2 separate regions of the Homo sapiens genome follow, and region 2 is linked to region 1. Evidence: fine-mapped expression QTL. Tissue or cell type: whole blood. Region 1 holds a variant in brackets; the other region holds the start of a gene. All regions are shown on one strand. Distances are between the middles of the regions.

What was found. PIP is the estimated chance that this variant, and not a neighbour inherited with it, causes the effect.
Region 2: ARL6IP4 starts here. The variant in region 1 is fine-mapped to the expression of ARL6IP4 in whole blood (TOPMed, PIP above 0.99).

The regions. Positions count from the first base shown.
Region 1 is chr12:123,026,072-123,034,244 of GRCh38, forward strand. All of the region lies in intron 3 of PITPNM2 (phosphatidylinositol transfer protein membrane associated 2), which reads right to left. Among named protein-coding and RNA genes, the nearest start is that of MIR4304, 19 kb to the left of the region's middle. RefSeq lists enhancers at 1,490-2,448, 2,449-3,406. The variant G/A (reference allele first, on the strand shown) is at 3,556.
Region 2 is chr12:122,976,641-122,984,813 of GRCh38, forward strand. ARL6IP4 (ARF like GTPase 6 interacting protein 4) reads left to right here and starts at 4,041. Exons shown (of 6, transcript NM_018694.4): 1 at 4,041-4,105; 2 at 4,489-4,659; 3 at 4,931-5,239; 4 at 5,317-5,434; 5 at 5,829-5,898; 6 at 5,980-6,269. The coding sequence starts at 4,500. The coding sequence ends at 6,036. It overlaps OGFOD2 (2-oxoglutarate and iron dependent oxygenase domain containing 2), which reads left to right. Exons shown (of 7, transcript NM_001304833.2): 3 at 14-127; 4 at 231-330; 5 at 1,802-1,929; 6 at 2,113-2,370; 7 at 2,443-3,402. The coding sequence ends at 2,706. It overlaps PITPNM2 (phosphatidylinositol transfer protein membrane associated 2), which reads right to left. Exons shown (of 26, transcript NM_020845.3): 26 at 6,840-8,173. RefSeq lists enhancers at 3,238-3,457, 3,614-4,119, 4,120-4,625 and silencers at 3,708-4,347, 4,358-4,457.

The DNA of each region.
Region 1 (8,173 bases):
CTCCGTAAATTCTTATTGAACAAATAAATGAATTCTAGTCCCAACTCTGTGACCAGCTCCCTCTCCTCCTGGACAAGTCACTTCTCTTTGGTGTCAATTTCCAAACTCTAAGTGGAGACAGGACTACCTATCTGTCCATGCCCTGGCGTAATGGGTGGAATGTCCCCACCAGGCCCTTGGAATGTGACCTTATTTGGAAATAGGGTCTTTGCCGATGTAAATGGAGTGACGTGGCCACAAACTAAGGTATGCTTGGAGCCACCAGAAGCTGGAAGAGACAAGGAAGGGTCTACCCGTAGAACCTTTGGAGGAAGTGCAGCCCTGCGGACACCTGCCTCTCTGGTTTCTGGCCTCCAGAACTGTGAAAGAATAAATGTCTATTGTTTCAAGCTATGCAGTTTGTGGTTCTTTGTTATGGCAGCGCCAGGAAATAAGATACCTGGGATGCTGGCAGGCTCAGTGAGAAGGTGTGTAAGACAGGGGGTCCAGAGCTGCCTGCAGGAGTTTCTTTGGGCAGAGGCCTGGTGACCCACCTGCCAGCAGCTGAGGGTGGAGCCAGGACAGGGGCCAGGAGGGTCCCTTCCACCTTGGCCTTGCTGGGTGGCTGCGCAGAAGCCCCTGCCCACTCAGGCAGACTTCACGCCTTTTCCAGGACAGCAGGCTCACCCAGTAGCATCCTGTGCGGTCTAGGGAGGATGCCTCCTGCCTCTTCCAGCTGCTGCTGGCTCCCAGTGCTCCTTGGCCCATGCTGTATCTCTCCAATCTCTGCTTCATCTTTCCTGTGTCTTGGTCCTTTCCTTTTCTTATAGGGACACTAGTCATTCATTCAGGGACCTCTCTAAATCCAGAATGATCTCATTTCAAGATCCTTAACAAATTACACCTTCAGAGGCCCTATTTCAAAATAAGGCCACATTCTGAGACTGCAGGTGGATGCAGATTCTGGGGGGGACACTGGTCACCAGTGGGGTGAGTGCCCACAATGGCCTCCTGTGAGTGAGCTTCAGCCTGCCTGCTGGAGAAACAAGCACACTACACTGATGGCCCCCCACCTGTCCCTCATCTCTCGGTGGGGCAGGTGGAGTCCTCACCACCTCCCACCCAGCCCTTGGCCACATACATCTTCAGTCACCAGCACTTTCCCCAGTGTATGGTGACTCTTCATGCTGACTCCAGTACCCCTGGCCTTGCCACCCATAGGTGACCCTGTGCTATGTGTAGCTCTGAGTATCTGAGCACTGGAAGGCAGAGCTGTGAAAGGGAGAGCACTGGCTTCAGAGTCAGACAGGGTGGAGAGCATGTAACCTCCAACAGCTGGAACTTCAGAGAAGGGGTGAACTAGGAGACCTCAAAGTGCTCCACTAAAAGCAATGTGAAAAAGGCAGCCCACCACATCTCTGGGCAGACTGGTATCATTAGGCCAGCTATGCACCCTTGGGCAAGTTCCTTGATATCTCTGAGCCTCGAGCTGTCATCTGGGGATGGGGATGAATGGGGATGAGTACCACCAACTGTGCAGGTTATCGTGAGGATTAAAGCAGGTTCTGATCATTTGCTGGACACTGATTCAGTCGGCTGTGGAGGGGTGTGAGGGCTGCAGTCAGTGGCAGAGCCACTGGGAGCCAGACGGGACCCCCTGTATAGCACTTTGGTGTTTCCTGAAATAGATGCTAGGTAAAGATTGGTCAAATGAAGAATGGATTCTAGTTCCAACTGTCACCAGGAACTTCAAAGCTGGCATCACCAAGGGCAGCCAGTCCTCCCCAAGCTGACCTCTGGCTCCCCACCAGTGATGGCGTCCAAGGGGGGCAGGCCCCTCCTGGCACAGCTACTCAGTCATGCCACTTAGGAGCAAGCTCTTCTCGAATCACTCTGATCTCTGCCACATGAGCAGCCACCCCCTCGTCCCTGCCTACCATTCCCCTAAACAGTGCTGCGGTACTGTTTTCAGAGACAGCGGCAGTTGGACAGCAGAGACAGGCCTGGCTCCCCAGGGGCTAACGAAGGAGTTGGGGGAGGATGCAAAGAAAGATCAAGACCAAGAAACCCCTGAAAGCAGCCGCTCCCAGGGTCCTGGCCAGGCCACCTCCGGCCACTCCCTCGGCGGCACACATTCGCTGAACACCTCGGACGGATGGCCCTCTCCCAGCCAGGCAGACGATTTTGTTTTCTCACCTTTAACACGGTGTATATTGAGTGCTGCTCCAGCAGGGTGCCAGGTACTTTGACGCGCGAGCCCAGCCCATCTTTTTCACAACCTTCCAGCGGGGCAGCTTGCAGAGAGGAAGGCCTATTCCTAGCTGCCACTGGCTGGCAAGTGGCAGAAGTGGGAAATGATGAACTAAGGTCTTCTTATTATTCTTTCCACAAAAACACAGCAGTCTTCTTGAAGGCCTATCCATCTTGGGAGGCCAGTGCAGACTGTGCCCTTGAGCCTGTGCTGAAACGTATGTGAAATCTATCTTCCCAGAGAACGGGAAGGACTTTCATCCCCCTCTGCAACTCAGCCCTTGGCACAGGAAGTGCACAGGAAAGTCAGGTGACTTTAACTTACTTTTTAGCAATGTTACTGAGGTATGACTGACATACAATAAGCTGTACACATGTAAAGGAGCAGCTGGTGATTCTGACGTACGTTCACACTTTTGAGTCCATCACCCCACAGTGACAAGAACCCCAGGAACCGCAGGTTAGAAAAAGGCTAGAGCGGGCACAGACGGGCAGGTGGGGCTGGGAAGAATGAGTGCCCTCAGGACCCAGAGGGTCAGAGGAAGCTGCCTGGAAGAGGGGCATTCACACCAGCCCTGCAGGAGGGGCAAGAGCTCTCAAGATGGAAATTGGGCTGACAGTAGGGGTCTTGGTGACAGGAAGGGCACAGGTAGTGCCTTGGGTCTCCAAGTCGGGGTGGCCTGAACCTCTCCCCTCCTGCCCACCTGCTCTGCCCTCAGGCCTGGGAGCCACAGCACAGGCTGGGGTTGAGAGGGGAGATCCCTCCCAATGCTGCCTCCTCCCCAATCTAGACACTGGCACCTCCTGGTCCTCTCCGCCTGCCAGGGTGCCCTCACCTCTGAGATTGGCAGCAGCCTCCCTTGGCCTACTAGGGGTCCCAAAGAGGCCACCTAGGAGCCCGGAGATCTGAGCTCCAACCCTGGCCCTGTGGACCTCAATTTCCCCATATGTAAAATGGGAAACTATGCTCTCTGAGAGCCTAGCTTAGGTTACAGATAAAGAAACTGGCTGTGCATGGTGGCTCATGCCTGTAATCCCAGCACTTTGGGAGACTGTGGGTGGATCACCTGAGGTCAGGAGTTCAAGACCAGCCTGGCCAACATGGCGAAAGCCCATCTCTACTAAAAATACAAAAATTAGCCAGGCATGGAGGCGGGCACCTGTAATCCCAGCTACTGGGGAGACTGAGGCAGAGGAATCGCTTAAACCCGAGAGGCAAAGGTTGCAGTGAGCTGAGATTACACCACTGCACTTCAGCCTGGGGAACAGAGTGAGACTTCATCTCAAAAAAACAGAAAAAGCAACCAAGAGGAGCACTACCCCCTT[G/A]GGTCTTGTGGTGTATGTGTGTGTGTGTGTGTGTCTGTGGAGATGCATGTACACATGTGCACATATGTGTGCATGTTGTGTGTGCATGCATGTGTCTGTATAGGTCTGTGCATGTGTCTGCATGTATTTGTGTACATACCTGTATGCATAGGTGGCTGTGCTTGCATGTACATATGTTGTGTGTGGACACACATATGTGTCTGTGTGTGTGTGTGTGTGTGTGTGTGTGTGCACTAGAGCCATGGGTGAGGGAGGGAGGAGCAGCCCATGTGCACTAAAGAGGATATGAGCCAGAAACTGGGAAAACAGACCCACAGACCTAAACCCTGCCCTGAGACACTCACTGTCCAGCAGGAAGCAGACAGACACCCACAAAGAGGTGGAAGGCACTAGGTGCCCAGGTGTGGGACTGACAGGAAACTGCGAGGATTCAGGGAAAGAAATCACTCATGCTGCCCATGGAGATCAGAAAAGCCTCCGAGAAGGACACAGCATGCTGGCTGGTCTGAAAGATGGGCAGAAGGACCCTTGAGATAACCTGGGGACTCTTCTGTTTCAAAACATACTCACTAGGGTAGCATTTATTTAAAAAGAGGACAGTAAGTGCTGGTGAGGATGTGGAGAAACTGGAAACTTCATACATTCCCAGTAGGAATGTAAAATGGTGCAGCCACTGTGGAAAACAGTCTGGTGGTTCCTGCAGACATCAAGCATAGCGTCACCATGTGACCCAGAAATTCCCTTCCTAGGTGTAGACCCGGAAGAATTGAAAATAGATACTTGTAGGCCGGGCGCGGTGGCTCACGCCTGTAATCCCAGCACTTTGGGAAGCTGAGGCGGGCGGATCACGAGGTCAGGAGCTCGAGACCATCCTGGCTAACATGGTGAAACCCCGTCTCTACTAAAAATACAAAAAATTAGCCAGGGGTGGTGGCACGCGCCTGTAGACCCAGCTACTCGGGAGGCTGAGGCAGGAGAATGGCGTGAACCCGGGAGGCGGAGCTTGCAGTGAGCTGAGATGACGCCACTGCACTCCACCCTGGGCGACAGAGCGAGACTCCATCTCAAAAAAAAAAAAAAGAAAACAGATATTTGTATGCTAATGTCAACCCAAATGTCCATCAATGGATGAATGGATAAGCAAAATGTGGTCTGTTCATACAGTGGAATATGATTCAGCCATAAAACGTAATGAGGCACTGACACATGCTATGACATGGATGAATCCCAACAACATGACACTGAGTGAAAGAAGCCAGACACAAAGAGCAACACTGTGAGTGATGCCATGCACATGAAATGTCCAGAACAGGCAAACCCAGGGAGACAGGTAGTACATTAGTGATTGTCAGGGGGTGGGGAGGGGGAGTGAGGAGTGACTGTTTAATGGATATGGGGTTTCTTTCTGGGGTGATGAAAGTGTTTTGGAACTAAAGTTGGTGGTTGCACAACATTGTGAGTATACTAAATGCCACTGAATTGTTCACTTAAAAATGGTTGTTAATGTTTTGTGAATTTCACCTCAATAAAAGCAAAACAAGACAACAACCAATCAAGTAAGCCCAAAGCCCCTAGTCCCAAAAGAATTTCTTCCAAATGCTATAGAGACCTGATAGCCTGAGCCCCGTCCATGCAGACAGTAGGCAGGCCAGCGTTTTGCCCCTCAGAGGGCACACGACCTATGGGCCTGGCAATATCTTGGAGCTCATTTTGTTGGAGCTCGGACTGGGGGCTGTGGAGGCCAGAACCCAGCGATGCATCCGCCTGTCTAAGACCCAGCTGGGGCAGGGCTGGCCAGCAGGGGCCTTAAGTGCATGGGAAACTTCCCAGTCAGTAGCTCTAGCAGGAACCTATGGCTTCCTGGTAACTACATGAGGGCTGAAGCACCTCAAACACAGCAATTAGTCCTCAGGCCGGAGACAGCACACACCAAGAACACAGAGGACACAGGTGCAGGGCACTAGCACCTGTGATGTGCAGCAGACCCCCTGCCCATCACCAAGCTGTCTATCCGACACCCCCAGCCTCAAGGCCTGCCCAGAGGAGAGCTGCCCAGCCAGCCAGCCTGAGCAGGAACACCAACAGCCTTGCCCCCAATCTCCCCTCCAAGCATGCTAGTGCCTGTCACAGAAGCACCTCTCCCGGCAATACCTGGTTTCTTTCACCTTTCTTTTTTAACAGGAAAGCAGACGTGTGCACACATGCTTGCTCACCCAGAAGGTGCACAGGGAAAGGCTCTGGAAGCTCAGAGGAGCAGCAATGACTCCAGCTAGCCCTTAGAGGCCACAGTGTCTCTGCCTAGCTGGGGAGGATGCCCATCTGTCCAACAAGCTCTCACGAAGGGCCCTGAGAGTGCTGATGCTCACGATCTGCAAGGCGGGAGATGTTTCCATCCTGCCACAATCCTAATCAATGGAGCTTCTCAAAAGACACTGCATGTGTCGGCTAGATGGACGGGGCCTGGCTGCACAGCTGCAGGAAGGTCTGAGCGTCTAACAGGGAACTATATGATGCTTAACAGTTACATTCATTCGAGGCATAAGGATAGGTGTTCAAAAAAACCCTGAAGTGGCTGGGCATCGTGGCTCACGCCTGTAATCCCAGCACTTTGGGAGGCCAAGGTGAGTGGATCACAAGGTCAGGAGACTGAGACTGTCCTGGCCAACATGGTGAAACCCTGTCTCTACTAAAAATACGAAAATTAGTTGGGTGTGGTGGCGCGTGCCTGTAATCCCAGCTACTCCGGAGGCTGAGGCATGAGAATCGCTTGAACCCAGGAGGTGGAGGTTGCAGTGAGCCGAGATCACGATGCTGCACTCCAGCCTGGCGACAGAGCAAGACTCCATCTCAAAAACAAACAAACAAACAAACAAACAAACAAAAACCTGGAGTGACAGGTGTTTTGAGGAGCCCAGAGGTGATTCTATGCTCCAGAACAGCTTTGGGATCTCCTGGGGGCTGGAGGTCAGTCCTCCCGATCTTGACAGCCACCGGGAGGCCAGGTGGAGCTGAGGGGCTCCTGTGGTCTGGGTTCACCCTGGCTTGGGTGGGAATTGAGAAGCAGTAAGACAACAGCAGCACTGGCAGATCAGCCTGGTCCTTGAACACGCTGAGCTATTTCCAGAGTGCTCAGAGATGGGGGGCTGATTTAAGCTGCTTCCTCTCTCTCCACTCTCTAGAAATAATTATCGGGTAAGTGGTTCAAGAGGGAATTGAGTGGTCCTTCTGAAGCAGCTCAGAGCAAACAGCCCCCCGGAGAGGCTGGGTTCACCTTCCGTTCTTTTCCCAGCCAAGGCTCCCACATAGGGGAGCCTGGACAAACCCTTGCAGCTTCCTCAAGCTCCTCCCAGAAGGCAGCTGGGGCTGCAGGCTCTGCTGCGAGCTCACAGCTACCTCCCCTGACCTGGGTGGAAGGTGGGAGCCCAATAGGCGAAGCCAGTGATGGGAGGTGGAGGCCCTGCTGAAGCCTTTCCCCCACACCAACGACTCAGTCTGATGCTGTAATTAAGGGGTTGTACAGCAAGAAGCTGGAGGAGGGCAAGCCCCACTGGGTCACAGGGACTGGAGGCACTGATATGCCCAGAGGAGCCAGAGCCAGGCTGACAGCAGGTTCATAATCAGTGTGGGAAGCCCGAAGACCCTCAGCCTGGAGGGAAGCTGCCGGGCTAGGCCATGCCAGGCACTGAGGGTGGACAGAAGGCCAGCAGGAGAGCTGGGATGGAACCTCTACATAGAAAGGACTGCAGCCAGGACTGCAGCAAGTGGGAGCAGTGGTCCCATCTGGGGTCAGCCAGAGGCAGCCAGGTCTTGTGTTCCAGGTTGATCAGGCACTGAGTAGGGAGACTGGAGGTGTCTCCTAAGCAAGAGTCTCTGGCTCGTCAAAGGAGCCTGTCATCCTCAAACTCCTGTGTGCGTCTGTAAGTGAGCCACATGTCTGACACTGCTTTTTTGCAAGCAGTCAGGGTGGTGAGGAAAGCATGGAGCTGGGAGCTAGGAGACAGGCCCTGTGCTCCTTGGCAAGGCATTTAACATCTCTGGGCCTCATACGCCTTCCTGTCTGTAGAATGGGGTGTTATGGACTGAATGTCTCTGTCCCCCTAAAAGGCCTGACCCCCAGTGTGATGGTATTTGGAGATGGGGCCTTTGGGTGGTAATCAGGGCTAGATGAGATCATATGGGTGGGGCCCTCACAATGGGACTGGTGTCCTTAGAAGATAAGGAAGGGTGGAAGATGAGGGATTACTTAATGAGTACAGGGTATTTGAGTGATAGATACCCTACAAGCACCATTTTCCAATCTGTGCATGCAACAAAATTACAGTTGTATCCTATACATTTACACAAATAAAAAACAGAGGAGAAAAAGAAAAAGAGAAGACACCAGAGCCTGCTCACTCTCTGCCATGTTAGGAAACAGGGAGAAGGCGCCCATGTGCAAGCCAGGAAGAGGGCCCTCACCAGAAACCGCACTTGCCAGGCCTTGATCTGGGACTTCCGGCCCCCAGAACTGTGAGGAAGTGTGTTCCTCTACGCCCCCAGTTTGTGGTATTTACTGATGGCAGCCCAGGCAAACTGAAACATAGGAAAACATAGGGATAACGTCTGGGCCAGGGAGATA
Region 2 (8,173 bases), 49 kb before region 1:
TGTGCCACCCCAGCTTGAGCAGGAGGTGGAGCGGCGGCAGCGGCTGGGGCAGGAGTCAGCAGCTAGGAAAGCCCTCATCGCGAGTTCCTACCACCCGGCACGGCCTGAGGTCTACGACTCACTGCAGGTACCAGCCAGCCAGAGTGCTTGAAGGCCGGTACTGGAAAGAGGAGGTAGCATCCAGGGCTGGGGGTGCTGCCTGCCCCACAGCTGGTGTGTTTTGCTCCCAGGATGCAGCTCTGGCCCCCGAGTTCCTGGCCGTGACTGAGTACAGCGTGTCCCCAGACGCAGACCTCAAGGGCCTTCTCCAGCGGCTGGAGACAGTATCGGGTGAGGTCCTGGCCCTGAGACCTGGCAGGACCAGGGAATGGCAGCCTGGGAAACCTGGGTGTGGGATGCTGGGGTCCCTCCAGCCACCATCTCTGCCTCCAAAAACCAAACCAGCAGGAGCTGGAAGGGTCAGTGGGACCAACCTGCCAGGAGCAGGACATCCGCATTCATTCATTCAATACCTGCCATGAGCCTGGTATCTTCATTCTTTCCTTCACCCTTCCTTCGTGCCCTCATCCAGCAAATAGTGGATATTTGTGTCATGTGTGGGACAGCTGGCACACTCAAACAGGGCTGATCCAAGATCTTAAAGGGACCATTGAGACAGGTATGGGCAGGATAAAGGGACCAGTAAGGAATGGCAAAGCCCGGCCCCCCAGGGCTGGCAACAGGAGGGAGCAGTTACCACCTGGAGTTGTGGCTCTGGGCGGAGGCCTGCGGCCATGCCAAACTCCAAGTAGGGCAAAAAATGCCCCACTTCTCTTCGGATTTCTTGCTGGGCTCACTTATTGGCTAAACCCAGCAGGAAATGCTGGGCAAGGGAGGTTTGCGTGTTGTTTAACCTCTGATTCAGTTTCCTCATCTGTAAAATGGGAGCAACAGTAACCCCCTCTCTTAAGGCACTGCGACGATCAAGTGAGTTAATCTGCATAGAGTGCCTGTCACAGGGCCCGCACGTAGTGTTTGGAAAGTGTTTCCTATTCTTATTGGCACTGATAGCCTGGGCTAGGGGCTCCTGTGGGAGGCAGATACAAGTTTCCCCTCATGGAGCCTGTGCTTTGTTGGGAGTCATGGGTGGAATGAATCCCCCTCCTCCCAGCCTGGGGGTGCTCTCCTCATTGCCTTCCACTCCCCGGCAGCTGAGATAGTGCTGAGGCTGTTGGCTGGGGCAGGGCCTAGGCTGCGAGGTGGCCCCATCGTGGGCACACTAGCCCTGCACCCCTGGGCATTGGTGCGTCCGCCAAGAAATGTTTAGGTTTCCATTCTCAGCCTGGTTTCTTCCCCCTCAGGGCCCAGCAAGAAAGAACAGCCCCTTCTGGCCTTCCTGCTGGGGGACAGAGGCTCCCAGAGCCACTTCTGAGTTGGGGTACAGACTTCGGTGGCTCATCAGATGAAAGGAGGTGCAGAGAGAGCCTGAAGTTGGCTCTGTGATCCCGACTTGGCTGTCACTGGCCTGCTGGGTGTCCCTGGGCTACTTCCTTCCCCTCTCTGGGCCTCAGGACCCATATGTGAGCTCCCAGGGCCAGCCCTGTGGACACTTGTAGAGTCTGGGGAAAGGTTCCGGGCATAAGTGGGGGGCATGGGAATCGGCCTCCCCTGCTCCTCATGTTACTTCCTTAAGTCATCACAATAGCCCTGAAAAGCAAAGGCCTCATCTCCATGGCACAGGTGATGAAACAGGAAGACTGAAGCCCAGGCCTGGCCGGCCCACGGCCACATTCAGGCCAACAGACCATCCCTCCTTCCACAGAGGAGAAGCGCATCTACCGGGTGCCTGTTTTCACAGCGCCCTTCTGCCAGGCCCTGCTGGAAGAGCTGGAGCACTTCGAGCAATCGGACATGCCTAAGGGGAGGCCCAACACCATGAACAACTACGGGGTGGGTGAGGCCTGGCCGGTGGCAGAGGAGGGGGTGGCTGGGGTCAGGAGGCAGTGTCAGAGGTTCTGCAGATGGGCTGCCTGCCCGGGCTGCGAAAGAAGGTCACAGTGGGATCACCGTGGAGTGGAAGCCCAGGGTTGCAGCCCTCTAGTTTCCTTGCTGACCCCAGGAATCCCCTCCCAGGTGCTGCTGCACGAGCTCGGGCTGGACGAGCCGCTGATGACACCACTGCGGGAGCGCTTCCTGCAGCCGCTGATGGCCCTGCTGTACCCTGACTGTGGCGGGGGCCGGCTCGACAGCCACCGGGCCTTTGTGGTCAAATACGCACCGGGCCAGGACCTGGAGCTGGGCTGCCACTATGATAATGCCGAGCTCACCCTCAATGTGGCCTTGGGCAAGGTCTTCACAGGGGGCGCCCTGTATTTTGGGGGCCTCTTCCAGGTGAGTGTGTGACCCATGCGGCAGGGCCTGGGGCAGCTGTGAGTGCCCAGGCCTGAGTCGTGCCATCTGCAGGCACCCACAGCCCTGACGGAGCCCCTGGAGGTGGAGCACGTGGTGGGCCAGGGTGTCCTCCACCGTGGCGGCCAGCTGCATGGAGCCCGGCCCTTGGGCACTGGTGAGCGTTGGAACCTTGTCGTCTGGCTCCGAGCCTCTGCTGTGCGCAACAGCCTCTGTCCCATGTGCTGCCGTGAGCCCGACCTGGTGGACGATGAGGGCTTCGGTGATGGCTTCACCCGAGAGGAGCCCGCCACGGTGGATGTATGTGCGCTCACCTGAGCTTGCTTGGGCCCAGTGTGGGGGTGGCAGGCAGGTGAGGGCTCCGTTGCCTTGGTCTGGGGGCAGAAATAAAATCCCCGCAGCCTACTGCACTTCTTGGCTCAACGGTGTGCCAGCTTCTGGGTCATTCTATGGGCAAAGATGCTGCCTTAGTTCAGGTTTGTCAGAAGCAGGGTCTGGAATGGGGCTTCAGCGAGGGAGTCAGGGAAGCAGGGGAGGGGAGGGAGCAGCTGGGCAAGGAAGTGGCTTCAGAGGACGTCCAGCCTCAGCTGGCCCCACGGAGAGCTCCAGGCAGAGCCCACAGTACCACAGTGTGCCCACACCACCGGTTACTGGCTCCTGGATGAGGGGGCCAGAGAGGAGTGAATAACTTCCCAGACACTTATCTCCAGGGCAGGGTGCCTTCCAGTAGCCAAGGGAAGCCTCCAGAGAGCACAGATGTGAACCCTCAGCAGCAGGCATCACCCCCCAGTGGACTCGGGTGGGCCACCAGTAGCATCTTCTAGATGGCAGAGGGGTGAATGGCAGGGCCAGGAACCAGGCTGCCCGGGTTCCCATTCTGCTTCTGCCACTTCCAGCTGTGTGGCTTTAGGTGAGCCTTCACCTTTTGGTGCCTTCGTTTCCTCATTTAGCACCTACCTCCTAGAGCTGTTTTGGGAGTCAAATGCGCTGACGTATATAAAGTGCTTTGCAAGATCCCTTTGTGTTTGCGGCTGTCATTGTGGAAGAGTTGCAACTTGGGGGCCCGAGATTGGATGAAGCGCACAGCCACGCTTTGGGTTACACATTTGAAACTCAGGGGGCTTCCATATTGCAGTCTTGAGTTTGGTCTCCCTGGGAAGGTGGGGCACCAGCCCCATGCCACGTTGCACGTATCAGCTGGAGCAGAATCCTGGCTTCCTTCCGGATGGGCCTGGGGTCCATGCCCGCGCTCACTGCCAAGATCTTTCTGGCCCCTACGGACACGAGTTTGCGACCTCTGAGTCACTGGGTGGGCGCGTCGGAAAGACCAGGGCGCCTCAGTCTGGAGCTCGCAGTCGTATGGAGAGGGCAGGACCAGCCGGGGAGGAGGGCGGCGCGCGCGAGGGTCGCCTTCTTCCCAGGGCACCGGGGGCGTGGGTGCTGCGGGCGTGCGCCGAGAGGGCAGCCTTGGAAGTGGGCGCAGCTTCGGCAGACACAGGCGTGAGGGGCTGCGGAGCTCGAGGGCCGGCGCCCCTGCTTGCCTCTGCGGGAGGTGGGCGCGCCCGGGACGGAACCTGGGGCGTCAGAACGAAAGGCAGCGGCGCCGCGCTTCCCAGCCGGCCAGCCTCCCGCGCAGCGCCCCGGCCGGAAGCCTCCTCGCCGCCGCTTCCTCTCGAGAAGGCGCGGGGCGGGCTGTCCGGCCCGCAGGGCGGTCGAGGTGGGAACGGAGCAGCCCCGGGGGCCCCCTTGAGGCGGCGAGGCCGCGAAGGGCGCGGGGCTGGAGGGTAGGAGAGCGCGGGAAAGCGCCCCAGACGCCACTCGCGGCGGACGGCGGCCAGTTCCCAGGGGTTTGGAGCCGGGTGCGCAGGCGTGGGGCCTCCGGGCACGGGGCGGGCCCTTAACAGGCACCGCTGCGGGGACTGGAGTCGGCGGAGAAAACCGGGGTCCCCAGCGCTGGGGGTGGGTGAGGGTCGCTCATTTTCCCGGGACGGTGACGGGTACTGGGCGTCGCCAGGCCCCGGCCCCGCTAGAGCCACCCTTGGAGCCCGCCCGCGGCCGGCCTTGGGGGCTTCGGCTCAAGCGCGTCTTCTTCGTCGCCAGCCCGCGGCGCCATGGCTCACGTCGGCTCCCGCAAGCGCTCGAGGAGTCGCAGCCGGTCCCGGGGACGGGGGTCGGAAAAGAGAAAGAAGAAGAGCAGGAAAGACACCTCGAGGAACTGCTCGGCCTCCACATCCCAAGGTCGCAAGGCCAGCACGGCCCCTGGGGCGGAGGGTGAGGACCACAGGCATCGGGGAGAGGAGGCGCAGTTACTACCCGGGGAAGTCGGGCGAGCAGTGGTCGGGGACGCTCAGTCATGCCTCTGTGCAGCCGGGCCTGAGATGTGAGGGCCAGGCGCCGCAGGAGCCAGGAAGGGGCTCCTCTGGGAAGCTCCATCTCTGTTCTGGAAAGCCCCTCAGGAAGCGCTCACCCTGTAGCCGGTCTGTGCCTGCCCCAGGCCAGAGCAGGGGACGAAGGTTTACCTCTTCCCCTCCTGGCCTTCCAGCCTCACCTTCTCCCTGCATCACAGAGAGAAGCAAGCAGAAGGCCCGGAGGAGAACAAGATCCAGCTCCTCCTCCTCTTCTTCCAGTTCTTCTAGCTCCTCTTCTTCCTCCTCGTCCTCCTCCTCTTCCTCCAGTGATGGCCGGAAGAAGCGGGGGAAGTACAAGGACAAGAGGAGGAAGAAGAAGAAGAAGAGGAAGAAGCTGAAGAAGAAGGGCAAGGAGAAGGCGGAAGCACAGCAGGTGGAGGCTCTGCCGGGCCCCTCGCTGGACCAGTGGCACCGATCAGCTGGGGAGGAAGAGGATGGCCCAGGTACTGTGCTGCCCAGCACCTGAGAGGGAGAAGGTCGCTTCCCAAGGCCTGGCCACCACCTCCGTCTTCCCTTCCAGTCCTGACGGATGAGCAGAAGTCCCGAATCCAGGCCATGAAGCCCATGACCAAGGAGGAGTGGGATGCCCGGCAGAGCATCATCCGCAAGGTGGTGGACCCTGAGACGGGGCGCACCAGGTGGGGAGCTTTCGGCCTGACTTACACCACAGGATCTGGGAGTGTTGGCTGAAGATGTGTGCTCTCGGGAGGAGTGGGGCCGGGCGGGGTTCCTGGTGCCTGAAAAAGGCCAAATGTGGGCAAAAATACGGTCACTTGGAGTAAGTAGTTGCAGGGGCTGGAAGGGCCTGGAGGAGGCTCTTGAAAGGGCTGTTGTTGGCCGGGCTGAGGCTGGCAAGGCAGAGCCCAGCTCCACTGCCTTCATCAGGGAGAGTGGGTGAGGCCCCAGGGTCTGTCCACTCAAGGCTGCGGGGTGGGAGCCCTGGGACCCCTCTGCCGGCTGCTTGTGGTTCTGCTCCTCTGGCATTAGGGGACCTGCCTATTCCTTGCTGAACGGAGACCCTCCCACCCCCAGGCTTATTAAGGGAGATGGCGAGGTCCTAGAGGAAATCGTAACCAAAGAACGACACAGAGAGATCAACAAGGTGGGTGTGGCCCCTCTGCCTGCCATCCGCCCCCAGCTCTGTTTGTGATGTACCCCTCCTCCTGTGTGCTTTCTTCCCCAGCAAGCCACCCGAGGGGACTGCCTGGCCTTCCAGATGCGAGCTGGGTTGCTTCCCTGAGGGCCCCCGCTGGCCAAGGCCTGTGGACGACGCTGGCGGCCCAGCCTGGGCAGGTTTCAGGGTGCCAGTGGGAAGCCTGATGGGTGCTGGTGGCCTTTCCCCCGTGGATTGGTCTCTGGCCCAGCCCAGTCTCTTCTCAGGGGCAGGGGGTGGAGGTTGGGGTCACCGGCCTGCTTGGCACCCCCATCTGAAAGAGCAGCACTTCTCAGCTATTAAAGGCCCCCTGGATAGACTTTCTCTGTTCTGTGGCTTTTTGTGCTGAGTGGGAGGGAAGGGTGCTACATGACTGCCAGGGAAAAACAAGGGCTCCGGGAGCTTTTGGGCAAAGCTGGGGTGTCCTCTGGTGGTCGTGAGCACAGGCCACACCAGCGCCTGTGCCTTCCTCTTCAGGTCAGCCTGCCTGGACCAGACCTCATGCCAGCTGAACCCCAAACCCAGAGAGCTGGCTCTGAAATGCCATGCACTCAGGCATGGAGAGAGTCGGCTTCCCCTGCCATGTTCATTCCACAGATCGCAGCAGTGCAGAGCCAGGTGCTGGGGCTGGGTGGCCTGTGTGGCAGGTCTGGCTCTCACTGCCCAGCTGTGTCTTCCACTCTGAGGCAGGGAGGCTCACAGCACCCGTTTCACTGAGGTCTGTGAGGGCAAACTGAGTTCCATCCCAGGAAGGAGCTAGAAGCAGGCTAGGCCTAGAGTCAGCCCCGCACTCACGTGTTGGCGTCACTGTGAGTGTCACTAGCATTACTGTTCCATGCCCCCATCCCACCATGCCCCACGGTCGCCACTGCAGTAAAGAGATCCAGAAGGAAGCCTTCCCGCTTCTTTAATTGGTGTAACAGACATGACGTTGTATACAGAGCACACTCAGGCCCAATGATGCGGGGACAGCAGGGACGGATGGGGAGATGGGGACACTGCTCACACATGGCCCAGAGAAACAGACGGCACACGGACAGACCAGACGGGAGGGGCTGAGACGTGAAGGCTGTGATGGGGTGGGCAGTGGGACTCAGACCGAGCCAGGGAGGGGTGGGGGGTCTCTGCTGAATCCCTCTTTAGAAATCAAAGAGAAGGCAGGTGGTGGGGCGTGGGGGTGTGGTGGGAGTGGGACTAAGGCTTCTATTCTAACAGGCCTGGGGGGTGGCAGTCAGCAAGGCCTGCCTCACCCTTTGGTTATGACTGGTCAGGCCTGAGCCCTGCAGCTCAGCACCCAACTCTGTAAACATTTTTGGTATTTTTAAAGGACGCTGCCCTCCCTCTCTTAGTTTCAGAAAGACTGGTACTTCCTCAAGAGGAGAATGTGCCAAAAGGAATCTGAAGGGAGGTGGAAAGCAGACCTGGATACAGAAGAGACTTCCCATGGGGGGGCAGGCTGCCCACCTTGCCATCTATGGCTGAGGGCCGCTGGGAGAGCCCCAGGGGACTATTGCTGTTGTCCTTGGCATGGCTGGCGGCTGGGCAGGCAGGCGGGGAGTGAGGAGCCGTGGGGGAGCTGCCCCCCTGGGGAGAGGCTGAGCCCACTGCCCACAGGGCCTCCCGGCCTTTATTGCAGGAGGGCCCGAGACTCTTCCAGGTGCTTCTCTGGATGGCTGGTCTCCCAGGCAGCAGGCAAGACAGGATAAGGTGGGGCCAAGAGAGGAGGAGGCACTGGCCACAGGGCCCCTGACAGGGGCTGTGATTGTCGGGCCAAGCAACTTCCTGCTGGGAGCAGGGGGGTCAGATATTGCACTTTCACTGCAACAGTTACATGAAAACTTGGTCCATAAAATAATCGTTGCTTTATACATAATGCCTGAAACAACAAAAAGCTACATCTTAAATATGAATAAACCCTGAAGGTTCCATCCCTCCAGACTTTTTTCTCTGCACAAAATAAATAGCTTTCACTCTGTATAGACCCACTTTTGCAGAACATTTACACGACCCTTTGGCTGTACATATCTACACACGGGAAAAAGTTAACATCACTCTGTGCACCTCCCCAGCCCGGTCCATGCGTCCCAACACCAGACCCAGGTCGGCCGTAGCTTCTCGGGGACAGAGCCTGGTCGCTGGACAAAGGCCGAGGCCAGGCAGGCTCTCCCACTTCCGGGAAAGCCGAGGAGCAGCAGAGGGGCCGCCGGAGCTGGCCGTTGAGCGC